Linked DNA regions of Homo sapiens: regions 1, 2 and 3 are each linked to region 4. Evidence: fine-mapped expression QTL. A gene starts in region 4. Each other region holds a variant in brackets. All regions are shown on one strand. Distances are between the middles of the regions.

The links. PIP is the estimated chance that this variant, and not a neighbour inherited with it, causes the effect. A credible set is the group of variants that fine-mapping cannot tell apart.
Region 1: its variant is the best candidate, but not a certain one, in a credible set for the expression of PCDHA4 in iPS cells (PhLiPS, PIP 0.67).
Region 2: its variant is the best candidate, but not a certain one, in a credible set for the expression of PCDHA4 in iPS cells (iPSCORE, PIP 0.55).
Region 3: its variant is the best candidate, but not a certain one, in a credible set for the expression of PCDHA4 in lung (TOPMed, PIP 0.57).

What each region holds. Positions count from the first base shown.
Region 1 is chr5:140,774,799-140,782,853 of GRCh38, forward strand. No RefSeq gene overlaps it. Among named protein-coding and RNA genes, the nearest start is that of PCDHA1, 7.3 kb to the right of the region's middle. The variant C/CTT (reference allele first, on the strand shown) is at 3,855.
Region 2 is chr5:140,838,694-140,846,748 of GRCh38, forward strand. The region is part of intron 1 of PCDHA1 (protocadherin alpha 1); the gene reads left to right. The region is part of intron 1 of PCDHA2 (protocadherin alpha 2); the gene reads left to right. All of the region lies in intron 1 of PCDHA3 (protocadherin alpha 3), which reads left to right. The region is part of intron 1 of PCDHA4 (protocadherin alpha 4); the gene reads left to right. It also overlaps PCDHA5, PCDHA6, PCDHA7, PCDHA8 and PCDHA@. The variant A/C (reference allele first, on the strand shown) is at 3,879.
Region 3 is chr5:141,024,708-141,032,762 of GRCh38, forward strand. It overlaps LOC124901090 (a long non-coding RNA gene), which reads right to left and starts at 1,837. Exons shown (of 2, transcript XR_007058970.1): 1 at 1,737-1,837. The variant G/A (reference allele first, on the strand shown) is at 3,881.
Region 4 is chr5:140,802,687-140,810,741 of GRCh38, forward strand. PCDHA4 (protocadherin alpha 4) reads left to right here and starts at 4,382. Exons shown (of 4, transcript NM_018907.4): 1 at 4,382-6,886. The coding sequence starts at 4,502. The region is part of intron 1 of PCDHA1 (protocadherin alpha 1); the gene reads left to right. The region is part of intron 1 of PCDHA2 (protocadherin alpha 2); the gene reads left to right. It overlaps PCDHA3 (protocadherin alpha 3), which reads left to right. Exons shown (of 4, transcript NM_018906.3): 1 at 1-905. It also overlaps PCDHA@.

The sequences.
Region 1 (8,055 bases), 28 kb before region 4:
TGCTGTTTTGGTTACTGTAGCCTTGTAGTATAGTTTGAAGTCAGGTAGCGTGATGCCTCCAGCTTTGTTCTTTTTGCTTAGAATTGTCTTGGCTATATGGGCTCTTTTTTTGTTCCATACGAATTTTAAAGTCATTTTTTCTAATTCTGTGAAGAATGTCAATGGTAGTTTGATGGAAATAACATTGACTCTATAAATTACTTTGGGCGGTGTGGCCATTTTCATGATATTGATTATTCCTATTCATGAGGATGGAATGTTTTTCCATTTGTTGTGTCCTATCTTATTTCCTTGAGCAGTGGTTTGTAGTTCTCCTTGACGAGGTCCTTCACATCTTTTGTTAGCTGTATTCCTAGGTATTTTATTCTCTTTGTAGCAATTGTGAATGGGAGTTCATTCATGATTTGGCTCTCTGCTTGTCTATTGTTGGTGTACAGGAATGCTTGTGATTTTTGCACATTGATTTTGTGTCCTGAGACTTTGCTGAAGTTGCTTATCAGCTTAAGGAGCTTTTGGGCTGAGACAATGGGTTTTTCTAGATATAGGATCATGTTGTCTGCAAACAGAGGCAATTTGACTTCCTCTTTTCCTATTTGAATACCCGTTATTTCTTTCTCTTGCCTGATTGCCCTGGCCAGAACTTCCAATACTATGTTGAATAGGAGTGGTGAGAGAGGGCATCTTTGTCTTGTGCTGCTTTTCAAGGGAAGTGCTTCTGGGTTTTGCCCATTCTGTATGATATTGGCTATGGGTTTGTCGTAAATGGCTCTTACTATTTTGAGATATGTTCCATCAATACCTAGTTTATTGATTGTTTTTAACATGAAAGGATGTTGAATTTTATCAAAGGCTTTTTCGGCATCTTTTGAGATAATCTTGTGGTTTTTGTCATTAGTTCCGTTTATGTGATGAATTATGTTTATTAATTTGCGTATGTTGAACCAGCCTTGCATCCCAGGGATGAAGCAGACTTGATCATGGTGGATAAACTTTTTGATGTGCTGCTGGATTCAGTTTGACAGTATTTTATTGAGGATTTTTGCATCAGTGTTCATCAGGGATACTGGCCTGAAGTTTTCCTTTTTTGTTGTATCTCTGCCAGGTTTTGGTATCAGGATGGTACCTCTGTCCAGTTCTGTGCACTTGCTGGAGAAGTGTTGTGATCATTTGGAGAAGAGGCACTCTGGCCTTTTGAGTTTTCAGCATTTTTCAGCCACAGCCTGTATACTGCACTGTGGGGATTACCTCTTGGAACCAAGCTGTCCTGTCTCTCCGGCTCCAGGAGGGGAAAAATGTGGTCTAGAGCTATAGTGATGGCTGCCACCCTCCCCGCTACCCCCAGTTCAGTGTCAGGTAGCAGTGTACTTAGCTAGCAGCTGGAGTAATGTTTGCCTTCCCTCCCGCAGGGAGCTCAGTTTTCTTAGGCAGCTAGCAACCACAGTGATGAGGGCCGCCCCCACCTCAGGGAGCTCAGTTGTCTTAGGCAGCTGACAGCCGCAGTGATGGCTGCCATCTCTCCCCCTGGAAGCTCAGATGGCTTAGACAGCAGGCAGCTGCAGTGATGATGGCGGCTTCTCCTCCGGGAACTCATTACCTTTAGGCAGATTCCAGCAAGAGTGGCTGTTGAGAGTCTGTGCAGCTCTGTGGTTGGGACCCAAGGCCCTGGTAGTATGGGCTCACGAGTGGAATCTTCCGATCTGTGGGTTGCGCAGATCTGTGGAAAAAGCACGGTTTCCCAGGCAAGATAGCATACTCATTCACCACCTTCCTTGGTTGGGGGTGGGGTTTGCCCTTTCTCCATGTGGGCCGACGCAGCACCCTGCTTTTTCTTGCTCTTTATGGGTCACACCAACTGCCTAGTCAGTCCTGATGATAAAACCTGGATACCTCGATTGCCAGTGCAGGATTGACATGCTGTTTTGTTTCTTCTCAATTGGAGCCTCTAACTGCTGCTGCTTCTAGTTAGCCATCTTGGTCCCGCCAAGCTCAAGACATTTTTATAAGGGATGATACCAGCCATTTAGTCCGTCTCTAAAGAGCTGATGGTCCTAAGAATTTAACCATGTCAATGAAGAATTGTTTACATTATTAACTGAAGGAAAATGGATGCTCTTTAAAGATTTTTTAAGATTGGGAAATAAAGAAAAGTCAGAAATAATCACACTGGGGCAGGGCATGGTGGCCCACACTTGTAATCCCAGAACTGTGGGAAGCAGAGGCAGGTGGATCACTTGAGGTCAGGAGTTTGAGACCAGCCTGGCCAACGTGGTGAAAACCCATCTCTATTAAAATATAAAAATTACCTGGGCAAGATGGCACACACCTGTAATCCCAGCTACTCAGGAGGCTGAAGCAGGAGAATCACATGAACCTGGGAGGTGGAGGTTGCGGTGAGCCAAGATCGTGCCACTGCACTCCAGCCTGGGCGACAGAGTGAGACCCTGTCTCGAAAAAAAAGAAAAAGAAAAAAAAGAAATAACCAAACTGGGACTGTATGGTGGATGCCCAGTGATTTTACATGTCAGAATTCTTGTGAAATTGCCCTTGTTGAGAGGAATGAACATGAGCGTTGTTGTGGTGGAGAAGAACTCTATAGTAAAGCTTTCCTGGTTATTTTTCTGCTAAAGCTTGGCTTTCTTAAAACGTTCTCTGGCCCTCCAGAAAGTCAACAAGCAAAATACCTTTAAGATCTGCAAAACCTGTTGTCATGACCTTTGCTTTTTGTGTGTGTTGGGACCTTTGCTTTTGACCAGCCAGCTTTTACTTTGACTAGACAATTTACACCTCTTGATAGCATTGCTTTGATTGTGCTTTGTCTTCAAGATCATACTGCTAAAGCCATGTTTCATCTCCCGTTACAATTCTCCAAAGAAAGTATTCAGAATCTTGATCCCATTGTTTAAAATTTCCATGGAAACTCAGCTCTTATCTGCAGCTGATCTGGGTGCAATTTGGCACCCATTGAGCAGAAATTTGCTCAACTTTAATTTTTTAGTCAGAATTGTGTAAGCTGAACCATCTGGGATGTCTATGGTATTTCCTAGTGTATCTGCTGTTAATCATTGGCCCTGTTCAATTACGGTATGAACAGGACTAATTTGTTTCTTATAAAATGATATGGATAGCCTGTCACTACAGGCTTTATCTCCAACATCATCTTATCCCTTCTTAAAACAAGTTATTCATTTGTACACTACTTATTTCTTTGAGGCATTGTCCTCATAAACTTTTCATAAAGTGTCAATGATTTCATTATTCTTCCACCCAAGCTTCACCATAAATCTGATGTTTGTTCTTGCTTCAATTTTAGTGAATTCATGTTGCTCTAATCGGGAGTCTTTTCAAACGGAAGTCCTATCCTTCTTTGTGGCTTAAACTAGATCCTGCTCAGACATGTTATAACAAGTTAATACAAGTTTATTATGATGCAAACTTTATTTAAATTCATGCATATTTTTTCATAGTACGCATTTTTCATGAACTTTTTGAAGACCTCTTGTATTTTCTGGGAGAGATTAGTATTGGTGTTATTTTTTAAATTAAATTTTTTTTACCTCATACCATGTATTTTTTTTTATTCCTTTGAGACATCGTCTTTGGCCCATGGATTATTTAGAGATACGTTAACATCCAAGTGTTAGAATATTTTTCTTTTATCTTTATGTTATTGATTTCTCCTTTGATTCCATTGTGGTCACAGAACACACTCTGTATGATTTCATGTCTTTTACATTTACTGAGGCTTGTTTTATGACTCAGGGCAAGATGTGTTTTGAGATATGTTTCACTGGCACTTGGAAGAGTGTATTTTGAAATTTTTTTTTTTTGAGATGATGGAGTCTCTCTCTCTCTCT[C/CTT]TCTTTTTTTTTTTTGAGACAGAGTCTCACTCTGTTGCCCAGGCTGGAGTGCAGTGGCATGATCTTGGCTCTTGGCTCACTGCAACCTCCACCTCCCGGGCTCAAGTGATTCTCCTGCCTCAGCCTCCCAAGCAGCTGGGACTACAGGCATGCACCACCACACCTGGCTAATTTTTGTATTTTTAGTAGAGACAGGGTTTCACCATGTTGGCCAGGCTGATCTCGAACTCCTGACCTCAAGTGATCTGCTTGCCTCAGTGTCTCAAAGTGCTGGGATTACAGGTGTGAGCCACTGTGCTCAGCCCGTGATTGTTGAATAGTGTGTTCTATAAATGTCAATTAGTTTCCATTGGTTAGTGATGTTACTGAGTTCTTCTATATTCTTGCTGATTTTCTTTTTAGTTGTTCTGTTATTTGTTGAGAGAGAATTGTTGAAGTCTCCAATTATAATTGTGGATTTATCTGTTTCTCCTTTTAGTTCTATGAGATTTTGTTTCACAGCTCTGTTGTTTGGTGCATACACATTTAGGGTTGCCATGTCTTTTTGGTGGATTGACTCCTTATCATTTATAATTTTCCTCTCTCTCTCTCTCTCTTTTTTTTTGAGACAGGGTCTCACTCTGTCATCCGGACTGGAGTGCAGTGGTGTGATCTCGGCTCACTGCAACCTCCACCTCTCAGGATCAAGTGATTTTCCTGCCTCAGCCTCCCAAGTAGCTAGGATTACAAGCGCGCACCACTACCGCCAGGCTCATTTTTGTATTTTTAGTAGAGAGGGGATTTCATCACGTTGGCCGGGCTGGTCTTGAACTCCTGACCACAAATGATCCACCCGCCTTGGCCTCCCAAGTTGCTGGGATTACATGCATGAGCCACCGCTCCTGGCCTGATTTTCCTCTATATACCGGTAGTTATCTTTGTCTTGAACTCTATTTGATAGATGCTTCTGCTTTCCTTTGATCACTTCTGACTAAAAAATTAAAGTTGAGCAAATTTCTCCTCAATGGGTCCAAAACCATTGCACCTAGATCAGCTGCAGATGAGAACTGAGTTTCCATGGAAATTTTAAACAATGGGATCAAGATTCTGAATACTTTCTTTGGAGAACTGTAACAGGAGATGACACATGGCTTTAGCAGTATGATCTTGAAGACAAAGCACAATCAAAGCAATGCTACCAAGAGGTGCAAATGGCCTAGTCAAAGTAAAAGCAGGCTGGTCAAAAGCAAAGGTCCCAACACACACAAAAAGCAAAGGTCATGGCAACAGGTTTTGGGGATGCTCAAGACATTTTGCTTGTTGATATAGCTTTTACATTTTTAATTTTAATCTCCCTGTATTTTTATATTTCAAGTGAGATACTCATAGGCAGCATGTAATTGGGTCTTTTTTTGATTCACTTAGTCAGTTTTTTTTTCTCTTTCTTTTTCTTTTCTTTTCTTTCTTTCTTTTTTTTTTTTGAGACAGGGTTTTGCTCTGTCACTCAGGCTAGAGTGCAGTGATATGGTGTTGGCTCACTGCAGCCTTGATCTCTCAGGCTCAAGTGATCCTCCCACCTCACCCTCCTAAGTAACTGAGAGTACAGGTGCATGCCACCATGTCCAGCTAATTTTGTTTATTTTTTGTAGAGACAAGGTCTTACTATGTTGCCTAGGTTGGTCTTGAACCCCTGGGCTCAAGAAATCCTCCCACTTTGGCCTTCCAAAATGTTGGAATTACAGGCACAAGCCTCTACACCTAGCCTAAGATTTTTTCTTTTTCATTTATTTTCAAAAGTTTGCCTGTTATATGCCTTGGTGTGGAGTCTTTGGAGTTCACTCACCTCTCTATATTGTTTATCAAATTTGGGAACTTTTTAGCCATTTTTTGAGTTATTTTTAGCCTTGTCTCCTTTGCCTTTTCTTTCAGTACTCCACTGACATGAATGTTGGAGCTTTTGTTAAGTTCCCACATGTCCCCAAGGTACTGTTCTTTTTTATTCTTTTAGTCTATTTTGTTGCTGTTTTTCAAATTGCGTAATTTTTATTTATTTACTTATTTGTTATGTTTTTAGAGATGGGGTCATGCTCTGTTGCCCTGGCTGGAGTGCAGTGGCATGATCATACTGCACCATAACCTCAAACTCCTGGGCTTAAGCAATCCTCCCACCTTCACCTCCCAAAGTGCTGTGATTACAGGTGTGAGCCACTGTGCCCTGCCCAGATTCAGTATTTTCTATTTTTCTTTTAGTTTCCTTATTCTCTTTTTTGACCACTCCATTCTTCTATTTGGGTTTTTATTTTGGTTATTGTACTTTTTTCCAAAATTTTCATTTGGTTCTTTTCATCATCTATTTATTTGCTGAGACTTTCTGTTTCATTGCTGAGGGTTTCTATTTTTTTATTCGTTTCAAGCATATTTGCAATTGCTCATTGAAGCATTTTCATGGTGACTGCTTTAAAATTTTTATCACAGAATTCTAACAGCTCTTTCATCTCATTGTTGGCATTGGTATGTTATTTTTTAAATTTAATTTATCTTCTTGGTTATTGGAATAATGAGTAATTTCTTCATATTGAAACTTGAACATTTTTATATCATGTTTTGAGACTCTAGAGCTTACTTATTCTATTTTAGCTAGTTTCTCCTGACACTGTTCTGTCAGAGAGAGCATTGGCACTACCTCATTACTGTCACTTGAAGATAAAGCCCAAGTTTCCCATAGGCCTACATTGACAAATGCATGGACATGTCCTCTATACTTCTAGGTGGGGTGGAAGTTTTGGCCCCACCATGTGTTCTCCATAGACACTAAGGTAGAGATGCCCTTGTTATCACATGGTGAAAGGTCTTGGCTCTCCACTAAAACCTCCTCTGACATCACCTGATATGGTTTGGATATTTGTCCTCTTCAAATCTCATGTTGAATTGTGATGCCTAATGTTGGAGTTGAGGCTATCAGGAGGTGTTTGGGTCATAAGAGTGCATCCCTCATGAATGACTTGGTGCTATTCTTGGGGTAGTGAGTGAGCTCCCACTCTGTGAGTTCACACAAGATCTAGTTGCTTAAAAGAGTGTGGTATCTCCTTCCTTTTCCTCTTGCTCTCTCTCTAATCATGTGATATGCTGGTTTTCCCTTCGTGTTCAGCCATGATTGGCAGCTTCCTGAGGCCTTCACCAGAAGCAGATGCCAACACCCTGCTTCCTGTACAGCATGCAGGACCATGAGGCAAATAAACCTCCTTTCTTTATAGATTACCCAGTCTCAGATATTACTTCATAGCAACACAAAATGAACTAATACAGAAAATTGGTACCAAAGACTGGGGTGTTCCTATAAAGATATCTGAAGATGTGGAAGCAGCTTTGGAGCTGGGTAACGGGCTGAGATTGGAAGAATCTGGAGGTCTCAGAAAAGACAGGAAGATGAGGGAAAGTTTGGAACTTCTTAGAGACTTGTTAAGTGGTTGTGACAAAAATGCTGATAGAACTATGGATAGCAAAGGCCAAGCTGATGAGTTCTCAGATGGAAATTAGGAATTTATTGGGAACTGGAGCAAAGGTCACTCTTGTTATGCCTTAGCAAAGAACTTGGCTGCATTGTGTCAATGTCCTGGGGATTTATGGAGGGTTGAACTTAAGTATGATTACCTAGGATATCCAGTGGAAGAAATTTCTTTCTTCTTTTTTTTTTTTTTTTTTTTTAAGGCGGAGTCTCGCTCTCTAGCAGGCTGGAGTGCAGTGGCACAATCTCGGCTCACTGCAAGCTCCATCTCCCGGGTTCATGACATTCTTCTGTCTCAGCCTCCCGAGTAGCTGGGACTACAGGTGCCTGCCACCACGGCTGGCTAATTTTTTTTTTTTGTATTTTTTTAGTAGAGACAGAGTTTCACCGTGTTAGCCAGGATGGTCTCGATCTCCTGACCTCGTGATCCACCCACCTCGGCTTCCCAAAGTGCTGGGATTACAGGCATAAGCCACTGCGCCCAGCCAGGTGGAAGAAATTTCTAAGCAGTGAAGCATTCAAGATGTGTCATGGCTGCTTCTAACAACCTATGATTAGATATGGGAGCAAATAAATGACTTAAAGTTGGAACTTATATTTAAAAGTGAAGTGGAGTGTAAAAATTTGGACAAGTCACAACCTGGCCACGTAGTAACAGAAGGAAAAAGCATTTTCAGGAAATAGATTCAAGAGGGCTACAGAGAAACCACTTGCCAT
Region 2 (8,055 bases), 36 kb after region 4:
GGGAGGCCGAGGCAGGAGGATTGCTTCAGTCTAGTAGTTTGAGACCAGCTTGTGCATCTTTTGTAGAGACTTTGTAAAATTAGCTATGCATGGTGATGCATGTCTGTAGTTTCAGCTACTCAAGAAACTGAGGTGGGAGGATCACTTAAGCCAGGGAGGTCCAAGCTGCAGTTATCATGCCACTGAACTCCAGCCTAGGTGACAGAGCAATACCTTGCCTCAAAAATAAAATAAAATGAAATAATAAAATAAAATAAAATAAAAACCCAGAACTGACAATTTTCACTGTTCCTAATATTCTAATATACTTTAGTAAATTATTTTAGGATATGTTACTGTTTTCTTTTCAACGTGAATAAGGATAGAGGTATGCAAAGTCAAAAACCTGTCTGATAATCAATAGAATTATTTACCATTAAGCCATAATATGTCATTCACATAAGCAGACCAAGTTTGCTGCTCTTGTTGAAAGATATTCAGTTTTGTGGAAAAATCTATAAATATCTTTGACCTTCAAAGATGTAACTGTAATCTGTTTTTATTGCTTTGCTTTTATGCTTACATGCATGTATATTTAAAACCTTCCTAGCATATTATTAAAGTTTTAAATATCCTATTTATATTGGGAAATACCTGAAGTTGATAGGGGATCCTCCTTAGCCACCTAAGCTGTATTCATCAATTATTATGATGATGATGATGATTATTATTTTTGAGACAGGGTCTCACTCTGTAGCCCAGACTGCAGTGCAGTGGCACAATCTGGGCTTACTGCAATCTCTGCCTCCTGGGCTCAAGTGATCTTCCTACCTCAGCCTCTCAAGTTGCTGGGACTATAGGCACACACCACCATGCCCAACTAATTTTTGTATTTTTTGTAGAGATGGGGTCTTACCATGTTGCCCAGGCTGGTCTCAAACTCCTGAGATATCGAGAAATACTATTTTCTTTACAAATTGTTTGCTACTATTTAGAGTCAACTACAGAGATTTTTTTGGGTAAATAATGTGATGACAAATTTAAATCATTTCACAGAAAATACCCTTATTTGCCTTTCCTATTTAACCTACGTTTTTGGTAAGAATTTTGTAGAAATTTGGAGGAGCTCTTAATTGCCTACTATGAAGGCATTCATGATGAATCCATGGAGAATTTACTTTTGAGGTGGACTTTGAAAGATGAATAGAATTTTGACAGAAAAAGATGAAGTAATAGAAGAAAAACCTTGAACAAAGAGTGTGCCAAGAAGGAGACAACATATTTTCTGTAAAATATGACTCCTATTGGAAAGTGGTTAGCCTTAGCACTGAGAAGATTGGCTCATGGTCACGTAGCGTATCTCCCAGATGGAAGTCTAATGTCTTGACAATTAGTCAATAGAAAGATAAACTTGTTGAAGATTTTAGTGAAATCGAGTGAAAGCTGTACTAATAAGGACAGAAATTATCACACGTGAAAGGAGAGATGGGATGTATACAAATTTTAAATATGGTAGGCAAAGGAAAAGAAGTCATAAAAATACATATGAGTAAATGTGGAGAATCACTATGCTATAAAAATTGTGATTTTTTAATGATTTGGGTTTTGGGTGATTATTGATTAGATATTCTTTTAACTTTGGTCGACTCATTTTCTAGGCAATGTTAGGGTATACAGGTAAAAATGTCAGGTAGAAAATGAAAATAGGGGGTTGCAGATATGGAGTTAAGAATACTTCAAATAATAGGCTAGTTTAAAGCCGTGGAAATAGAAACGTTAAATAAAAAGTTGGGGAAAAAAGTTTAAAGGCATAATTCTGGTAAATACTCACTTTTTGGAGCAGAAGAAAGATGAAGAACTAACAAGCCAATGATGGCAATACTGCTAGAGTTTGGCATGTCAGAGAAATCATAAAGGAAAATGTTTTAAGTGAGAGGCTGAATTTAACAAGCTATAGAGATATAGAGAAATAGTGTAAAGAATATGCACATACATTTTTATTACTTTAGTAAATAAAACGGTTCAGGCAATTTGACATTTATTGAATAAAGAAAAGCAAAAATTTAACAATAAGAACACAAGAAGATAAAATGTAGAAAAGTTAGAATTATATGCTCACCTCAGAGTAATATATACCAGTGTTTCTGGTGACCAAATAAATATTAATGCATTTCTTCCACACGAAACTATGGAGGACAGTTTACATTTCTGATATCCATGACATACAGGTCATACTTAAATTTATTATTAATTGATACGATATTTGAAATATTGGGAAGAAATTCCTTTCCTTATGAAGAAGAAATCCCTAGCTGAAACTAATGTAAGGAGCCAGACAGTATGAATGCCTCTGCAATTGATAAAGTTAAGGATTTACTATTAAATTATGATAAAGAAATAGAAAGTGCATAGAAGAACCCAGATATTGCGGAAGTAATTCATGTAATCATTACCTTTTGAAGCCACATGATGTCGCTGTCTACCAAGAAGTTCTGGTTGGTCAATGTTCAAAGTCTTTTCTCTGACAGCATCTGTCTCTAAAGGCCGAACAACGGGAGATGCAGCGGAATTGGATTAAAAGACTCTGAAAGTACAGTCGTTCATCTTTATATTAAGATAATATTTTCTGATAGGAAACGACTATTTAACATGGATTATCACTGGCGAGGAGAGCTGGGATCCTGGCGACTACTACTCTTGCTTCTGCTCCTCGCAGCCTGGAAGGTGGGGAGCGGCCAGCTCCACTACTCCGTCCCCGAGGAGGCCAAACACGGCACCTTCGTGGGCCGGATCGCGCAGGACCTGGGGCTGGAGCTGGCGGAGCTGGTGCCGCGCCTGTTCCGGGTGGCGTCCAAAAGACACCGGGACCTTCTGGAGGTAAGTCTGCAGAATGGCATTTTGTTTGTGAATTCTCGGATCGACCGCGAGGAGCTGTGCGGGCGGAGCGCGGAGTGCAGCATCCACCTGGAGGTGATCGTGGACAGGCCGCTGCAGGTTTTCCATGTGGACGTGGAGGTGAAGGATGTTAATGACAACCCGCCAGTGTTCCGGGTAAAAGACCAAAAGCTGTTTGTTTCAGAATCCAGAATGCCAGACTCTCGGTTTCCGCTAGAGGGCGCGTCCGATGCAGATGTTGGAGCTAACTCCGTGTTAACCTACAGGCTTAGCTCTCATGATTACTTCATGCTAGATGTGAATTCAAAGAACGATGAGAATAAACTGGTTGAGCTCGTATTAAGAAAATCCTTGGACAGAGAGGACGCTCCTGCGCACCACTTATTCCTGACAGCCACAGATGGGGGCAAACCTGAGCTCACAGGCACTGTTCAGCTGCTGGTCACAGTGCTGGATGTGAATGATAATGCTCCCACTTTCGAACAGTCTGAATACGAAGTAAGAATATTCGAAAACGCAGACAACGGAACAACAGTTATCAAACTGAATGCTTCTGATCCGGATGAAGGAGCCAATGGGGCAATTTCATATTCTTTTAATAGCCTTGTTGAAACTATGGTTATTGACCACTTTAGCATAGATCGAAATACGGGAGAAATAGTGATTCGGGGTAATTTGGATTTTGAACAAGAAAACTTATACAAAATCCTCATTGACGCCACGGACAAAGGCCATCCTCCCATGGCGGGTCATTGCACCGTTTTAGTGAGAATTTTGGATAAAAATGATAACGTCCCTGAGATAGCACTGACTTCCTTATCCTTGCCTGTACGTGAAGACGCTCAATTTGGTACTGTCATCGCCCTAATTAGCGTGAACGACCTCGATTCAGGTGCCAACGGGCAGGTGACCTGCTCCCTGATGCCCCATGTCCCCTTCAAGCTGGTGTCCACCTTCAAGAATTACTACTCGTTGGTGCTGGACAGCGCCCTGGACCGCGAGAG[A/C]GTGTCGGCCTATGAGTTGGTGGTAACCGCGCGGGACGGGGGCTCGCCTTCGCTGTGGGCCACCGCCAGCTTGTCTGTGGAGGTGGCCGACGTGAACGACAATGCTCCGGCGTTCGCGCAGCCCGAGTACACGGTGTTCGTGAAGGAGAACAACCCGCCGGGCTGCCACATCTTCACGGTGTCTGCGCGAGACGCGGACGCGCAGGAGAACGCGCTGGTGTCCTACTCGCTTGTGGAGCGGCGGGTGGGCGAGCGCTCGCTGTCGAGCTACATTTCGGTGCACACGGAGAGCGGCAAGGTGTACGCGCTGCAGCCGCTGGACCACGAGGAGCTAGAGCTGCTGCAGTTCCAGGTGAGCGCGCGCGACGCGGGCGTGCCGCCTCTGGGCAGCAACGTGACGCTGCAGGTGTTCGTGCTGGACGAGAATGACAACGCGCCGGCACTGCTGGAGCCTCGGGTGGGTGGCACTGGTGGCGCAGCGAGCAAGCTGGTGCCGCGGTCTGTGGGCGCGGGCCACGTGGTAGCGAAGGTGCGCGCAGTGGACGCCGACTCGGGCTACAACGCGTGGCTTTCGTATGAGCTGCAGCCAGCTGCAAGCAGCCCTCGCATCCCGTTCCGCGTGGGGCTGTACACGGGCGAGATCAGCACCACTCGTGTCCTGGACGAAGCGGACTCTCCGCGCCACCGTCTGCTGGTCCTGGTGAAGGATCATGGTGAACCTGCGCTGACCGCCACGGCCACGGTTCTGGTGTCGCTGGTGGAGAGCGGCCAGGCTCCAAAAGCGTCATCGAGGCAGTCGGCTGGCGTTTTGGGTCCGGAAGCGGCGCTGGTGGATGTCAACGTGTACCTGATCATCGCCATCTGCGCGGTATCCAGCCTGCTGGTGCTCACGCTGCTGCTGTACACTGCGCTGCGGTGCTCAGCACTGCCCACTGAGGGCGGGTGCCGGGCGGGCAAGCCCACTCTGGTGTGCTCCAGTGCGGTGGGGAGCTGGTCATACTCGCAACAACAGCCGCAGAGGGTGTGCTCTGGTGAGGGGCCACCGAAGACGGACCTCATGGCCTTCAGCCCCTGCCTTCCTCCTGATCTGGGATCAGTTGATGTAGGCGAAGAGCAAGATTTAAATGTTGATCATGGCCTCAAAGTAAGTCCATTTAAATTTAGAACTCATAAATTCTATTTGTGGAAATTGTAGTTACTTTAAAAGTGTTTCAGATTTAGTTTTTCACCGTATTTTATAGTGAAAATTTAAACATTGTTTAGTTTTTAGAAACCTTTTATAATTAATTGAATTTTCTCAGTGGCATAATACAGTATTAATCATTCTCCACAAGTTGGGTCTATCTTGAAACTCAAGTTATGGTTGGATGATATCCATTTTTTACTGAATATTTATTTTGGCCTGCCTTACAGCCGTCTTCTCTGAACAATACTCTAAGGACGTTCAGGGCATTTTGATCTTTGGTGAAAGTATTCCCCCAAAGCGTTTATTCTTTTGTCCTTAGGCACTGAACTCTTAATCTTACTCCATATGCTGTACTTTGAAATGCATGTTTTAAATATGTTGTCTTTATATTTACTTTTATTCACTTTAAGATCTCGGTTTATTCATCTTATCTGACTTTTTAGTGTCTGGTAGTCACAAATATCTTTGGTGTTTCACTATTGCCGTTTTAAGCAGTGTAGTGATAAAATACAGAATGATAGTGTTTTTCAAAATTTGATAGTTTTCATATTCTTCCTAATTTTATTATAAACTAGTTAAAAAGTAAAATCAAGAGGGAAGAGATTTGTAATCCTTCTTTTAATTCATTATTTAGACCATTTTACCATTTGGAGACATGTTTTTTATTCTACATGATTTTTACAGTTGTATTGTCGCCAACTTAACATTTTTTGAGCCTCTATGTTTAGGAAATGATTACTTTATTCTTGCAAGTATCTTCTAAACTCTAATCATTCAACCCTTTGTTCATGAGTTGGAATATTTTCAATAATATTCCACATTAAAGTGATATTTAATATATGACTTAGAAAAATGTTTTCATCAGAAAAACTATACATGATAATTTCATTCTTGCAAACCAAACATATAATTTATAAATCCTTATTATACAGAATATTTGGGATTATCATGGCCCATTAGTTCGTGTAAAAATATTTAGTATTATGGGATAAATCTTTGAAAAATCCAAGATACTTTATTTTGGTATCTTTCAACATTTTCTTTCTTTTATTTCTTCTTGTCTTTTTACACGTTTGCTTCTTGTGACTGTTGGACCTGCCTGGATATTAAATACCCATTAGACTTCGTGCATATTGCTTTGGAGAGAATGGTAGAAATTGATGGAAGGGAATGAACGATTTCTGGGACTCTGAATTCTTACAGTTTGTTATTAGTATTGTTTTAAATCTTTTAATCACTTATGAACAAATAATGTAATCATTTATGGGCATATTTTAGCCCCCTTGTCCAACTGAAGGTAACCTCAAAGCAGCATTGTTTTGTAGTTTATTTTACAGTTCTCTTAATGCCTGTCCATGTTTAGCATTTTATTTGACTATTTGAACACATTGTGTAAAAGCGAATTGTTTTCATTTTAGTCCTTTAAAAAATATGATTGTTTTCATTTAAGTCCTTTTAAAAAATATGATTATCTTTATTATCCTGTTTGAATAATATGTGTTTTCCTTTGTGAAAGTAATATTTCCTATCCTGTCTATGTCTACCTGGTTCTCAGGTATTACTTTAATTACTGAATTCTCCTAAACATTTAATTGACTTTTACAAAATATCATAAATAGGAGGATTCTTTCCACCACCTAGCATTGTATTTGGCAATTTATCATTTAAGTCATTTTAGTTCTGTTTTTCTTCAACTCTCTGATATTTGAATTTGGGGTTGTGCTTTCACAGTGAGAAAGTCTAAACCTATTTCTTGTACATTAATACTTTTCACTATTCTAATTATGGTGATGCTTTTAGCTATTAAGAATTTCTGGGATTGAAATGTGTCAGAAGTTAGTTATTAAGTATTGTGGATTCTGAAGCTCTCTAAATCAAGTCCTCCCTTTACCAATTTTTGTATGTGTAGCCATTGGTAAAGGATTTGTTATTCAGTTCCTTGGCATTATATGTATGCATGATAAATGTGAATTCTACTTTATAGATTTATTTGTATCAAGTAAGTTAATAGTTATAAATTATTAATAATAAACTCTGGCAAGTGATAGGTACATAATAAAATTTAGTTATTACCATTCTTAAGAGAAAAGAAGTTAGTGATTGCAGAAAGGCAACCTAAAATGTCAGAAAGTCGTTATGGCCTTCCATATTAATCTTATTTTTGTGTAAAACTATCTTCTGTAAAGTCATTTTTTAGATTAACCTAGGATGTTTCAATATTTTGAATGTTGTGTGGTGGAATGAAAAAAATCTAAAAGTTATTACGAGTTTAGGAAAGTCAAGTTAACACCACCTATGTGGGAAAACAGTTTTTTGGAAAGGTTAAAGTCCTTCCAAGGAATGTGTAGACTATCTTACTTTGATAGTTGTATGTTTCCCATATTTAAAAGTTGCCTGAGATCCTGCAGAGGCCTGAGTAGGCGTTTGAGTTCTTTGTATGTATGAGATCTTTCCATTAATAGTATTTTTCTTAAAAAGAAGTATACAATAATGTTTTGATGATGATTTAAAGTCAATTTATGTTGTAGTTCTATGAATTAAGTAAACCATTTATGTAGAGTGTTGTAAATAGCCTTTTAAAGTGCTTTCTCTTTTTTCTTTTCTTTTCTTTCTTTCTTTTTTTTTTTTTTTTTTTGAGACGGAGTCTCGCTCTATCTCCCAGGCTGGAATGCAGTGGCGCAATCTCGGCTCACTGCAACCTCTGCCTCCCGGGTTCAAATGATTCTCCTTCCTCAGCCTCCCAAGTAGCTGGGATTACAGGTGCATGCCACCATGCCCTGCTAATTTTTTGTATTTTTAGTAGAGTCGGGGTTTCACCATGTTAGCCAGGATGGTCTCGATCTCCTGACCTCCTGATCCGCCCACTTCGGCCTCCTAAAGTGCTGGGATTACAGGCATGAGCCACCGCGCCCAGCCTAAAATGCTTTCTTAGCAAGTAGAGAAGATTGTAATAACCAGTCTTCATTAAACATTAAATAGGACCCTTACAGA
Region 3 (8,055 bases), 220 kb after region 4:
TCCTTTGTAGGGACATGGATGAAATTGGAAATCATCATTCTCAGTAAACTATCGCAAGGACAAAAAAACAAACACCGCACGTTCTCACTCATAGGTGGGAATTGAACAATGAGAACACATGGACACAAGAAGGGGAACATCACACTCTGGGAACTGTTCTGGGGTGGGGGGACGGGGGAGGGATAGCATTAGGAGATATACCTAATGCTAAATGACGAGTTAATGGGTGCAGCACACCAGCATGGCACATGTATACATATGTAACTAACCTGCACATTGTGCACATGTACCCTAAAACTTAAAGTATAATAATAATAAAAAATAAATTTAAAAAAAGGTTAATTTACCGAAAAAAAAAATCTCAAAGTGGGGAAAGATTTTATAAGAATAACAGAATACTAAGAAGTTATAGAAGAGAAAATATTTATTTTGCATATATAATTTTAAAAATTGCATTAAAAAATCACCATGAACTAAGTCAAAAGACAAAATATATTGTTATTTATATCATAGAAGAGGACTAATTTCTATACATATAAGTAATTCCTACAAATTAATAAGAAAAAGCACAAAGAAATATAAAATAACAGCAAATGGCCAAAAAGAAGTAAATGCTCAAAAGGGTTAAATAAGATAAATCAAAATATATTATATATTATAAATATTTATTACATACCTATCTAATATATTATGTTTATATTAGAAATCTTTATTAGAAATATAAAAATAAAACACGTTTGACAGTCCTTTAGAAACTAACAGTCTAAAAATGAATTCAACTGCCTAGAAATGGGAAAAGTATACTTTAAAGAAACAAAAAACAAAATTTCCTGTGTGCGGTGGCTCATGCCTATAATCCCAGCACTTTGAGAGGCCAAGGCGGGTGGATCAATTGAGGCCAGGAGTTCAGGACCAGCCTGGGAAACATGGGAAAAACCCTCTCTACTGAAAATACATAAATTAGCTGGGCGTGGTGGCCTGCACCTGTAATCCCAGCTACTCGGGAGGCTGAGGCACAAGAATCGTGTGAACCTGGGAGGCAGAGGTTGCAGTAAGCCAAGATCGCGCCACTGCACTCCAGCCTGAGTGAGAGAGTAAGACCCTGTCTCAAAAAAAAGAAAAATTATTTGGAAAACATTAAATAAACCCAGTCCAGTTTATAAGACCTATATACACTAGAGCAGTGGTTATTAGTCCTGGCTAAACCTAGAATTACAGATACAGTTGCCAGATTTAACAAACGAAAACATAAGATGTCCAGTTAAATTTAAATTTCAAATAAATAGCAAATAACTTTTTAGTTTAAGTATGTCTCATGCAATATCTCCTATACAATATTTGGGACATACTTATATGAAAATATTATTTGTTTTCTCTAAAATTTACATCTAACTGATGTTTTACACTTTATCTGACAATGCCTGGGCTCTACTACAAGCCAAATAAATCAGAATCTCTGGGGTTGTGGCCTGGGCATTGTTTTGAAAAACTCCCCAGGTTAGAATCACTCGATGCATAGCTAGGATTGAGAACCACTGCTCTAGAAAATGATAATTTTAGATGATTAATTAGGGTAAATTGGCATCAGGAGAATTGACTTTAGGTGAATTGGTATCAAGGTGAACTAAATTCCTGTCATCATCTTAGCATGTTATTTAACAAAAGCTTGTTCATCCCTCTAGGTCCATATATCATGTCCTTCTAGGAACCTAATCCATTTTGTAATCATTACTTACAAGGTCCCACTTTGAATTTGGCATCTGCCTCTGGCTGCCTTCTTTGCATAAGTGAGGTCTCTTCTGAGAGCAGTTTGCTTGTCTTGCATGTTAGCCAACGCCTGGAATTGAAGATGTGAACATGCTTATCTTGAAGGTTAAAGTTGAAGCGCCCTGGTTTCGAATCAGCAATGACTCGGAAGTCCCTTTTAATGCTTTCAGGCAGTTTTATTTTTCACTTGCATAGATGAGGAAATTGTAGGTAAGAATAATTTGATGAGTTTTAGGTGTTACGGACATAACCAAAGGCAAATTCAAGTATCTTAACCCTTAATAAATTAAGTTGGTTTAAGAAAAGATATTATGGTGAAAGTCTCCAATTTTGGTAAGTGTTGTTTATAAAAACAGGTAGACAAACTTACATCTCCAGACTTCTTTCAAAACAAAATGTCACCTTAGAGCACTTCTTTCTTCTTCTGTGCAGCTAAAGTGCTATCTGTCTCCTCATCAGTTCCAAATGACCAATGTGGCAGAGAAGAATGGGCTGTTATTTGATGCCAAATTGAATCTGCAGAGACTCAGTGAACTAGGACCAGAGAATTATTACAGTGACTCAATATGTGTGTGTCTATTTGTGATTTTTAACATTGATAGTAGCAAGGCTTACTTTTAATTTCCTCTTAAATATTAGGCTGTTTCAAAATGTCCACAGTTACTGATTAGGCCATTGTGTTTCTGATCTTGGTGATAAAAAGTAGCGAATTTTTAAACTTAAAAAAAAAATTCATTTGGGAGGTTCTAACTGAACTTTCCATATTTCAAGAGTACCCATCCTAGCCACAGGAAAACATGAATATTCTTCAGCTCAGAGCTAAATTTTAGTCATGCTTATCGCCCTTTGGTTTTCTCAGGCCACTGCCCCATGTGAGAGCTAGCAGCATCAGCAGCACAACTATCATCCCAATATTCTGATCATCTGAGAAGCAAGGGCTTCAGGAATGGATTTGTTTTCAAAAAGCGTACAAAGCCAGAAACTTGATTCCTCCATTTATGGATAATATCCAGGACAGATGGAAAGAAACACACCAGACAGCAAATGCCCTTGTCTCTGGTCTCCATATCTGCATTGGCACAGGTCAAACACAGTCTCTATGTGGCCCTGGGCTTAAAGGAAAACATCAGTTTTAGCTAAGCGAGAGCCCCAGAATTCAGTATATTTGTGACACGATCCAAATCCTTCACCCCCAACTTATAGCCTTACCATCACTATGTGACCATCAACATTAAGGTCGTGGTTTATGCCAGTTTCCAAAAGTTCAGAACTCCCCGACCATCTCCTTTCACTCAGAGAGTAAATCCCATGTTGTTCTGTAGATTTTTTTTACGCTATTTCTATCTTTCCTTAACTCCTGAAGCCTTTGTATTATGCCCTGTGGTCAGTCATTAGCAAAATTCCCTATGTTTGCAGCCTCTTTTCTGAAAATTTGCTGTCTTTGTTTAAACCGAACACTGGTTCTCCCTAAGGAGATTATTTCCATTATTCTTCTCAAAATGTAGCTGTGATTTTTCCTTAGCCTTTAATCCCACTGGGCCTAGAAGTAAGAAATTATCTTCCCTGCTCCTTCCAGATCATCCTACCACTTGCCACTTCTGTATCACCCTACCTTGCCCCCCACCTTGCCACTTCCAGATCTCCCTATCTCCCTTCTGCCTAACAACATTCAGCTTAGAATCTCATGCGGTCAAATTTTAACACCCACTACCTCTCCTTGTAGCAGTCATCTCCTGATCCCATGTCACTCACTGTCATTTCTTGATGATTTTACCTGCTGGCTCAATATCTTCTCTAGTACTATTCTAAACATAATACTTGGTGATTTCAATATCCACATAGATGTTTCTTCTAACAGCCTACCTTCTCCATTCCTTGACCTTCTCTCCTTGAATTACCCAGTGCTCTACTGACCTCAGCTACCTACTCCCATCTAAGGTCAAATATCTTTATGTTATCAGTGACTGCAACACTTTCCTAATTTCTAAGTATCAATTTCAAGCATCAAACTTTCTAATTGCCCCCTACAATTTTCCCAGCTTACTCCCTCTAAGACCCGAAAATAATGCCAACCATTCCAATACATAAAATCTATTAGTCCTACCATCTTTTC[G/A]TCATCCCTACCACCTTCATGTCCTAATTCTTTTTATCCAGTGAAAAGTCTGGGGTCAATCATTATAATCACTGCATTTTATATACCTTAAAATCCATGATCCTCCCTCACTTTAATATACTTGCTTATAAAAATCCGAAGCTTCATAAATCAAAAACTAGATTTATAAATTCAAAGACTTGTAAACCTAAAACTTTGCCCACATCAGGCTTGTATTCACATATGTTAATGTAGCAGGAGAAAAACATCACAATATTGCTAGCTGTTCTTATTTTATATTTGTGATTACAAATCTCAAGTGGCCCTTAACGTTGTCTGGCAATTATATAGTATTTTCCTAGCCCATTTACTCTCTCGTCTGCATCCATCCTACCTTGACCAATTCCTACATTCTGATGTCTTTCCAACTTTCAGCACTCCTCCCACTCCTCCATCAGTAGAGCATCTAACTTCAAATAAATTTGATAAATGAAGTGATCAGAGGAGCTGCCCATAAGTCTTATCTCATTGACCTACTGACCTGCCTTTGTTCTCTTGTACTGTATGTTATGTTCTGTGACTACTAGATGAACTCCCTGTGTCATGTACTCAAGGACATTGCTTTCTACCACCACTGTATTATCAATTTTCTCTTTCCTACTGGATCTTTCCCATCACCATACAAGCATGTTGTTATTTCTCACATCTTAAAGTAACTATTTATTGACCTCGTTTTTCCTTCCAGCTACTGCACATTTCTCTCTTCTTTATACAAAAAATTCCTTGAAAGTGTTCCCTATACTGACTATCTCCAATTTCTCCTCTAATTTCTGTTTTATAGTTTAAAAATTATTACATTATATTATATTATATTATGTTATATTATATTATATTATATTATATTATATTATATTATATTATATTTTTGAGACAGAGTCTTGCTCTGTTGCCCAGGCTGGAGTGCAGTGGTGTGATCTTGGCTTACTGCAACTTCTACCTCTCGGGTTCAAGTGATTCTTATGCCTCAGCCTCCCAGGTAGCTGGGATTACGGGTGCACGCCACCATGTCCGGCTTATTTTCGTATTTTTAGTAGAGATGAGGTTTCACCATGTTGGCCAAGCTGGTCTTGAACTCCTGGCCTCAAGTGATCCACCTGCCTGAGCCTCCTAAATTGCTGGGATTACAGGGGTGAGCCACTGCAACCGGCCCAAGTTTTAAGATAATTATATTTAAACAATTAGTACTCATAGCTACTTGGCTGTAGGTTCAAATGACTTCATTTGAAACCACTATTCTTCATTTTAGAAATTAGTACTTGGCCTGAAAAGATCATTGCAATGCTCAATTTTATTTATTTTAAAAAGTTCAAACCTATAGAAAAGTCAACAGAATAGTAAAATAAACCTCTATACTCCTTTCATCAAGATTCACCATTTAACATTGGCCACATTTACTTCTCTCTTTCTCTCTCCCTTAACCTTTCCTTCCCTGTCTCCCTTTCTGTCCTTCACTCTCTTCCTTCCTCTCTGTGTAATTTTTGGTGTATCATTTCAAAGTATGTTTTAGACATGACACATCACTGCTAAATAAAGCAGCATACACTTCCTAAGAATACGACATTCTCCTACATAATCATGATGGCATTTTCTTTTTTATTTATGTTTCATTTATTTATTTATTTAAGACAGAGTCTCACTCTGTCGCCCAGGCTGGAGTGCAGTGGCGTGATCTCAGCTCACTGCAACCTCAGCTTCCCAGGTTCAAGTAATTCTCCTGCCTCAGCCTCCCAAGTAGCTGAGATTATAGGCGCCCGCAACCATGCCTGGCTAATTTTTGTAGTTTTTTAGTAGAGAGGGGGTTTCACTATGTTGGCCAGGCTGGTCTTGAACTCCCCACCTCAGATGATCCGCCCGCCTTGGCCTCCCAAAGTGCTGGGATTAGAGGTGTGAGCCACCGTGCCCGGCCTGTATTTGATTTTTTTCTAGATTCTCCATATAAGTGAGATCATGCAGTATTTCTCCTTCTGTGTCTGGCTTATTTCACTTAGTATAATATCCCATAGTTTCATCCATGTTGTTGTAAATGGCAGTGTCTCCTTCTTAGGATGGCTATTATCAAATAGACAAGAGATAGCAAGTGTTGGTAAGAATTTAGAGAAAAAGGGACACTTGTACACTGCTGGTGGGAATATAAATTGGTATAGCCATTAAAGAAAATGGTATGGATATTCCTCAAAAAATTAAAAATAGAACTACCATATGACCCAGCAATTCTTCTCCTGGATGTATACCTAAAGAAAATAAAATCATAACCTCATAGAGATATCTGCACTCCCATGTTCATTGCAGCATTACTCACAGAGCCAAAGTATGGAAACAACTCAATTGTCCATTGGCTGATGAACAAACAAAGAAATGGTGATACAAATATATGCCATGGGATATTATTCAGCCTTAAAAAGGAGATACTGCCTGAAGTGTAATTTTTAGAATTGCTTTAGTGTATGGTCTGTTGGTGGCAAACTCGTTTTTTGGGGTCTGAAAATGTCTTTATTTCATATTTGCTTTTGAGGTTTTTTTTGAGATGGAGTTTGGCTCTTATTGCCCCGGCTGGAGTGCGATGGCGCGATCTCGGCTCACGGCAATCTCCGCCCACGGGAATCTCCGCCTCCCGGGTTCAGGCGATTTTCCTGCCTCAGCCTCCCAAATAACTGGAATTACAGGCATGCACCACCACGGCCGGCTAATTTTGTATTTTTAGTAGAGACGGGGTTTCTCCATGTTTATGCTAGGCTTTGAATTCTAGATTAACTTTATTTTATATCAGAACATTGACAATATCATTCCATTGTCTTCACGTTCCTCTTTTGCTGCTGAGTTCATTCTCAGTCTGTCACTACTTTATTTACTATTTATTTATTTATTTATTTTTGAGACAAAGTCTCACTCTGTCACCCAGGCTGGAGTTCAGTGGTGCAATCTCTCTGCTCACTGCAACCTTCACCTCCCAGGCTCAAACGATTCTCCTGCCTTAGCCTTCCAAGTAGCTGGGATTACAGGCACTGGCCACCACACCTGGCTAATCTTTGTATTTTTGGTAGAGACAGGGTTTCACCATGTTGGCCAGGCTGGTCTTGAACTCGTGACCTCAAGCGATCCACCCACCTTGGCCTCCCAAAATGTTGGGATTACAGGCATGAGCCACAGCGTCCATCCTATTTTTTAAATTTTTTAAAAAAATTTACCTTTCCTATGGTGCTGAAGTCTGTCACCACTTTAAGAAATCTCTCTTCTATATCTATTTTAAGATAATCTTTCTCATTTTCACTGTCCTGCAATTATACTATGCTATATGTATGTGATTATTTGTTTTTATCTTATATGAGATTCATTTGGTTTCTGAATTTGTGATTTGGTATTATGAAAAATTCTAATTAATTATCTCTTTAAATGTTGCTTCTACTCCTCTTTTATCCTTCAGAGACTGCAATTATACCTATGTTTATCATTTCACTCCATTTTCTATGTCTTTTAAACTCTTTTTATAATCTCTATCTTTTTTCTGTCTTTCCTACAGTCTGCCTGTCTTCTAGTCTATTATTCTTTTTCATTCATGTCTGATTTGTTCTTAAACCTACTAACTGAATTTTAAACTTTTATTTATTACATTTTTGTATTTGTAGTTTTATGTGCTCTTCATCCAAATATGCTTGCTCATTCCTCATGATGTTTTCCCTCTGCTTATTTTCAAACTCATCTTTTATTTCTTTAAATATATTAAATATAATCTTTTTATATTGTATTCAATAATTTCATTATCTGAAGTCACTGTATGCCTGCTTCAGTTGTTTTTATTTCTGCTGGATCTCAATCTAGTATCTTGTGACATTGGTTTTTTTTATGGTAAATCGCTCACTTTCCTTAGAATTCTATATTTAGAAATTATTTGAAGCCTGGGTTAAAGGTGGATTATTCTAGAGATAATTTGTACTTGCTTTGTCCAGGCTCCAGGGGTACTACAAGTTTGAGATCAACATAAAGTTATATTTTCAACTTGAAGTTTTGTTTCTTTTCCCAACTATCCATGTCTAGTGAATACAAGCTTCAAAACTACATGAGAATAAATAATATACCTATGTACCCACAAAAATTAAAAATTAAAAAAATAAGATACAATATTTCAATTAAGGAAAAAA
Region 4 (8,055 bases):
GGCGGGTGGGGGAGCGCGCGCTGTCGAGCTACGTGTCGGTACACGCGGAGAGCGGCAAGGTGTACGCGCTGCAGCCGCTGGACCACGAGGAGCTAGAGCTGCTGCAGTTCCAGGTGAGTGCGCGCGATGCGGGCGTGCCGCCTCTGGGCAGCAACGTGACGCTGCAGGTGTTCGTGCTGGACGAGAACGACAACGCGCCGGCACTGCTGATGCCTCGGGTGGGTGGCATCGGTGGCGCAGTGAGCGAGCTGGTGCCGCGGTCAGTGGGTGCGGGCCACGTGGTAGCGAAGGTGCGCGCAGTGGATGCAGACTCAGGCTACAACGCGTGGCTTTCGTATGAGCTGCAGCCTGGGACCGGCGGTGCGCGCATCCCGTTTCGCGTGGGGCTGTACACGGGAGAGATCAGCACGACCCGTGCCCTGGACGAGGTGGACGCCCCGCGCCATCGCCTACTGGTGCTGGTGAAGGACCACGGTGAACCCTCATTGACCGCCACGGCCACTGTGCTGGTGTCGCTGGTGGAGAGTGGCCAGGCACCCAAGGCCTCGTCCCAGGCGTCCGCTGGCGCCACGGGCCCGGAAGCTGCACTGGTGGATGTCAACGTGTACTTGATCGTCGCCATCTGCGCGGTGTCCAGTCTGTTGGTGCTCACACTGCTGCTATATACTGCTCTGCGGTGCTCCGCGCCGCCAACCGAAGGCGACTGTGGGCCGGGCAAGCCCACGCTGGTGTGCTCCAGCGCGGTGGGGAGCTGGTCATACTCGCAGCAGAGGCAGCAGAGGGTGTGCTCTGGAGAGGGGTTGCCCAAGACCGACCTCATGGCTTTTAGCCCTAGCCTTCCTCCTTGTCCAATTAGCCGGGATAGAGAGGAGAAACAGGATGTGGACGTTGATCTCTCAGCCAAAGTGAGTAATTTTTATTTATTCTTTCCAAAATGTCTTTGTTTTTCATTCCTCAATGTTTCCACTCCTCTGGAAATACATTAATAGTTAAGTATGAATTATGTGATTCATAATTAGACTTTTCCAGTTTTGTGGTTTTGTGGTTAAAACGGTAAGATTTTTGTTGCTAATTTTTGAACCAAATCAGCAGTAAGTTATGATATCCACACTTGTAATTTTGTTTTGTTATTAGGTGCAGTAGTAGAATTATTTTATTGCTAAATGCCTGGGTATAAGACAAATATTTTTTCTTAGATGAATTGCATTATTTAGAGAATCTGACTTCGACTTGTTTTATACTTATCCCTATACAATGCTTCTTCAATATCTTTTGCCACTTTTCATTTGGACTTCCTACTACCTGTTAGTACAAATGTTACTTGCTCATTTTATGAGTTCACCTAATGCTTATAACTCCCTATTGATTATGCTTTTCCACCTTCAGTTTCAAAAATTAGATCATTACACCTGTTGTCTTTTATGGAACCTCTTTTATTCTCTTATTCACTTGTTTGGAGTCTCAATCCTTATTTTTTACTTGAATATGATTCATTTTAGGCCTTGTGCTCTAATTTGGCAATACCGTTTATTGTTTCTTGATTTCCCAGTTGGGAAAAAAATCGAGAATAACAATTGCATTTAGAATTGCATCTTTGTTCATCTTTAGTTTATCACTACTTTATTTAATACTACTTTAATAATACTACTGTATTATATGTTAAAATTTATTACTAATAACTAAAATATCAATATGAAGTGAAAATTTAATAGTTGTATAGTATATTTATATATTCATTTTAAAAGAATGTTTTAAATCTTGTTAAAAATAATTTTCAATCTGAACAATATCTTGAAAATAATTATGGTATCTAATTTTAAAACTATCCCTACTAGCAAAACTTTTTATTCATTAGTGTCTTTTGCATACCATACTAAGGATGCTAATATGAAATAAGTTTGATAAGCCAATGTTATAATGTTATTACTGGTTAACTTCTCTGAATAGCATCCTGCCTATTAATGTGTGCCATGCAATAAGTAGAAAACTCCAAATAACCAGAACCAAATGAAATTGAAGGTAGACTTTTTTCTAATCACTACCCCTACATATTTGGTTATCTCCTCTAGCAATTAGTTGGACTCCCATTTAAGTTTCCCTACCACTGGAGAGAAATAGTAACCAACTGAAACCTGGTTAATACTCATTGACAGTGTGGGAGGTCTAACACGTAAAATAGATATTTTTCTTGACTCCTCTCCTTCCCCTCACTTCCATTTTCTTTATTTCCTTTTTTGGCACTATCCTTTGTTGCTCCCTTGTCCATGAAGTAGTAGCCATAGTGTGTCCATCTCAGGTCAGTATTTTAAAAATTTAGTTCTGTTATCAGCTTCTTGAATATAATAGAGTCAGCCAAAGTACTTGTCTTCCCAGATATGGAACTTCAATCTTCAAATCCAGCTTGCCTCTTGAAACTATTGTCTAACAAGACTCTTGGCAAAGACATTTTGAAGACTTTGGAATTTTCACTTCACAGATGTACTGATGCTATGCCAAATAAATATTGAATAGCTACCAAATAAACATTGTTTTCTATTCTGCTGCATTCCCCATCTGTACATTAAAATACCTGGTAAATGAAAATATTACAAATGAAATGGGTGAAAATGGAATTCTTCCTCCTTTTTTCCAATGTGCTTGATGTCAATGATCATTTTGTAAAAATATAGTTTGGGTCCCCACATAGTGAAAGTACTCTGGTTTCTGTTTGATTCAGAAATTTGGTGGGTTTTTTGTTGTTGTTTTGGTTTTTGTGTGTGTGTGTTTGTGTGAGTGTAGTTCTTCAATAGAGAGGGAGCGTAAAGCTATTTTCACTAGATTGATTTTTTGTTTAGACAAACAGGATGAAAATAACTTTATGGATATAGGAGGCAAGGAAAGTTTTTAAATGGCTACCATTATGTCTTTATATATTAAATTTCTTTATGTAAGAAAATGTATTGTGGTTTATTTATTGGGAAGTCTTCATTCCCCATTAATACCCAGGATGATTCAAAGATCATGATTACCAAGAATTAGAATAAAAATTAAGCTAAAACCCAAGTTTTCAACATTGAACTTGAAATACATCTTAATTGGGGAAATGTCTAGAGACTTTTTTTGTATCTTTAGAAAATCATAGAGGCTATTGAAACACCACATTTTCCCAACTAGATATGCGATCACCTTAAATTAATGCATTTTATTAGGCAATGGAAGGAAGCAAACATTTTCTGCAGGGTAAATATTTAGGAAATATTAGGTAAGTCCCTCTGAGCTATTAAACAATTAAGATACAACTATTCCCTTTAAAATATATATTCCAAAAAAGGACACACATACTCAAATGCTTATAAGAGATAAATTAATGTAATAAATGGCCCACGCGATTCCACCCTGGTGCTGCAGTTTGTAAAAGAAGAAAAAATACCTGTTCAATTGGTTTGATCATGACATTCTTCATGGGTCAGGGAAGTTTTAAGTGGTTATAAAATGGGGTAAATTGGCTTTAGAAGAGTTTAGAAATGATGTGGATTACTTATAGACAGGACAAAATGAACATGCTTGTTTATTAAAAAAAGCTATTGGAAGCAGGAAATATTCAGTTTGGCTAAAATATATAAGCACTATAGGAGAAAATAGAAGCTTAGGCACATTACATACTGGAGAACAAGCAAGTACTTATAAACTGTAAGAGTCAAAATGAGAATACCAGCGTTTCTCATGGGAGCAAATGAGTTCCAATGAATAAAATTATTTGGAATGCTTTTCCATGCAAGCTATTTGCTATAACTTCCTGCTTCCTTGCACTTTCAGCCCTGACATGACTCAAGGAAGACATCTAATTAAATGCTGATGGTCTTTGATCCTTTTATAAAACATCTGCAAATTTCCCTGTCAATAGCTTGTTCTTGGCACCAGAAGTTCCCTAGAGACCAGTCCCCTCAAGTCAACAACACCAGAAATACTAGGGTGAAGAGGGTGTTATCATTAATAAAAAAAAACCCTGGAATTCTTGGGAACACAGGAATCTGTAATGAATTTTTCTAATCAACAGTTTACAGTTACATGTTTACAAAGTGTATAGTTAGGTCTCTGTAATACTTAAAACCTGTGTTGAAAAAATTATTTCTACTGAAGTAAAAGTTGCCCCTATGGCGAAACTAAGGACCACACTCAATCAATCAGTGGTACAATGTGTACCACAGTAGTACAAAATGTATTCCTATTCTCCGAAACGACTGAAATAATAAATAAAACCAAGTAGTTTACAGTAGAGTGTGTGGGGGTTTCCACAATTGCTACTTACGGTTTGGAGCCACATGATGTCGCTCTTTACCACAAAATACATGAGAGAAGGAGGAAGAAGGGAAAATTCCTTCTATTCTTACTGGAAGGAACCATATACACTCTTTGGAGTCTGAAATATGGAGGATGCAGCTGCACTTGACTGACCGATTAAAAGATTTCCCTTGACTTTGAGAAACGATATTTAATCAGAACAAAATACTGTGCACTAAAGATGGAGTTTTCCTGGGGAAGCGGCCAGGAATCCCGGCGTCTGCTGCTCTTACTTCTTCTCCTCGCAGCCTGGGAGGCAGGGAACGGTCAGCTCCACTACTCGGTCTCCGAGGAGGCCAAACACGGCACCTTCGTGGGCCGCATCGCGCAGGACCTGGGACTGGAGCTGGCGGAGCTGGTGCCGCGCCTGTTCCGGGTGGCGTCCAAGGGCCGCGGAGGCCTTCTGGAGGTAAATCTGCAGAATGGCATTTTGTTTGTGAATTCTCGGATCGACCGGGAGGAGCTGTGCCGGCGGAGCGCGGAGTGCAGCATCCACCTGGAGGTGATCGTAGACAGGCCGCTGCAGGTTTTCCATGTGGACGTGGAGGTGAGGGACATTAACGATAACCCGCCGGTGTTCCCAGCAACACAAAAGAACCTGTCCATCGCGGAATCCAGGCCGCTTGACTCTCGGTTTCCACTAGAGGGCGCCTCGGATGCAGATATCGGGGAGAACGCCCTGCTCACTTACAGACTGAGCCCAAATGAATACTTTTCTCTGGAAAAACCACCTGATGACGAGCTGGTAAAAGGTCTTGGGCTTATATTACGGAAATCTTTAGACAGAGAAGAAGCTCCGGAGATTTTTTTAGTGCTCACAGCCACTGATGGAGGCAAACCCGAGTTGACTGGCACCGTTCAGTTACTCATCACAGTACTGGATGCCAATGACAATGCCCCAGCTTTTGACAGAACCATTTATAAGGTGAGATTACTAGAAAATGTTCCTAATGGAACATTGGTAATTAAACTTAACGCCTCAGATTTAGACGAAGGATTGAATGGGGACATTGTTTATTCATTCTCAAATGATATTTCGCCAAATGTGAAATCCAAGTTTCACATAGATCCAATTACTGGACAAATTATTGTAAAGGGATATATTGACTTTGAAGAAAGCAAATCCTATGAAATTATTGTAGAGGGCATTGATAAGGGACAGCTCCCACTTTCTGGCCATTGTAGAGTTATTGTGGAAGTAGAAGACAACAACGATAATGTCCCAGATTTGGAATTCAAGTCTTTATCACTTCCAATTAGAGAGGACGCTCCACTGGGTACAGTCATCGCCCTGATCAGCGTGTCCGACAAAGACATGGGTGTCAATGGGCTGGTCACCTGCTCCTTGACGTCCCACGTCCCCTTCAAGCTGGTGTCCACCTTCAAGAATTACTACTCGTTGGTGCTGGACAGTGCCCTGGACCGCGAGAGCGTGTCAGCCTATGAGCTGGTGGTGACCGCGCGAGACGGGGGCTCGCCTTCGCTGTGGGCCACGGCCAGTGTTTCTGTGGAGGTGGCTGATGTGAACGACAACGCTCCGGCGTTCGCGCAGCCCGAGTACACAGTGTTCGTGAAGGAGAACAACCCGCCGGGCTGCCACATCTTCACTGTGTCTGCGTGGGACGCGGACGCGCAGGAGAACGCGCTGGTGTCCTACTCGCTGGTAGAGCGGCGGGTAGGGGAGCGCGCGCTGTCGAGCTACGTTTCGGTGCATGCGGAGAGCGGCAAGGTGTACGCGCTGCAGCCGCTGGACCACGAGGAGCTAGAGCTGCTGCAGTTTCAGGTGACCGCTCGCGATGCCGGCGTGCCACCTCTGGGCAGCAACGTGACGCTGCAGGTGTTCGTGCTGGACGAAAACGACAACGCGCCAGCACTGCTAGCGCCTCGGGCGGGTGGCACTGGTGGCGCAGTGAGCGAGCTGGTGCCATGGTCGGTGGGTGTGGGCCACGTGGTGGCAAAGGTGCGCGCGGTGGATGCTGACTCGGGCTACAACGCGTGGCTTTCGTACGAGCTGCAGCCGGGGACTGGTGGCGCGCGCATCCCGTTCCGCGTGGGGCTGTACACTGGCGAGATCAGCACAACGCGTGCCCTGGACGAAACGGACGCTCCGCGCCACCGCCTACTGGTACTGGTGAAGGACCACGGCGAGCCCGCGCTGACGGCCACGGCCACTGTGCTGGTGTCACTTGTGGAGAGTGGACAGGCGCCAAAGGCCTCCTCACGGGCGTTGGTGGGCGCTGTGGGTCCCGATGCTGCGCTGGTGGATGTCAACGTATACCTGATCATTGCCATCTGCGCGGTGTCCAGCCTTTTGGTGCTCACGCTGCTGCTGTACACCGCGCTGCGGTGCTCTGCGCTGCCCACCGAGGGCGCGTGCGCTCCGGGCAAGCCCACGCTGGTGTGCTCCAGTGCGGTGGGGAGCTGGTCATACTCGCAGCAGAGGAGGCCGAGGGTGTGCTCTGGTGAGGGCCCACCCAAGACCGACCTCATGGCCTTCAGCCCCAGTTTACCTGACTCTAGGGACAGAGAAGATCAGCTGCAGACAACTGAGGAATCCTTTGCAAAGGTTAGTGTATAACATCCTTTTGTTTAATTTTCGTATTGTTTTTCTCTATCAACTTCTTCGTAAATTTATTTCTAAGAGTCAAATTTCCCTGGGTTAAAATTTTACCTCTTTTTACATATCCATTTTAACTAAAGTCTTTTGGAATTATAGGACATCAGAGCAATATATATTGCCTTCCTTCATTTTATGCTGCATTATTCAATGCATATTAACAGAACTGTAATTTCTAGTAAATTTTCACTATATTCACCCTCTTTGTTTTTGGTAATAATCAACATTTTAGAAAACATTTTACTATTATTTAACCTATTACATATAAACAAATGTGCACAGGCTGAAATAATAAAGCTCCATAAATTGTATGAAAGTGAAAAGCTCCGTTGCCTCCATCGCTGAAGCCCCTCGCATGCACCTGCCAAATCACTTCCCTTATTTTTCCTCCAGTGTAACCGCACATTTGCCTTTTATAACTGTTTGTTCGGGGCCTGTTTTGGGAACGTTATCTAATTGGACTTGCACAACATGTATTGTCTGTGCATTTGTGTGTTATTTGTATTTATCACTCATTGTTTATGAAATTATCCATGTTGTTATATGTAGTTGTAGTTTATTTATTTCTGTTTCTAGTACTATTTCATAAATATACTATACCTTATTTATTCTACTGTTCAGGAATTTGCATTGTGCCTCAATGTCTATTTCAAATAATGCCATCATAAATATATTGTACATTTCTTTGATGCCCATGTACACAGATTTCTCTCAGGTTTTTGCCTAAGAGTTGTGTTTGTGGGTCACAGAATATGTGTGTATCTTTGTCTTTTGTAGCTAACACCAACCAATTTTCCAAGATGTTTTTACCTGTTTACATTCCTAGTAGTGCATAAGGCTTTCTGCTGGGCCACATCATCTCTACATTTGTCAGGTTATTTTCATGTTAGCCATTTTACTGGGTGACTTTTGTAATCTCATTTTGAAATTATTTTATATTTAAATGAAGTTGAGTACCTTTCTATTTTATTTTGGCAATTTTTATACCTTATTTTGTGCAATAGCTGCTCAAATCTCCTATTTCTCTAGTCTGTTGTTTTTCTTTTCTTTTTTCTCTTCTTTTTGCTTCCATAGAACTTTATTTATTTCCTTATCTTGTTTTTCTTATTACTTAAACA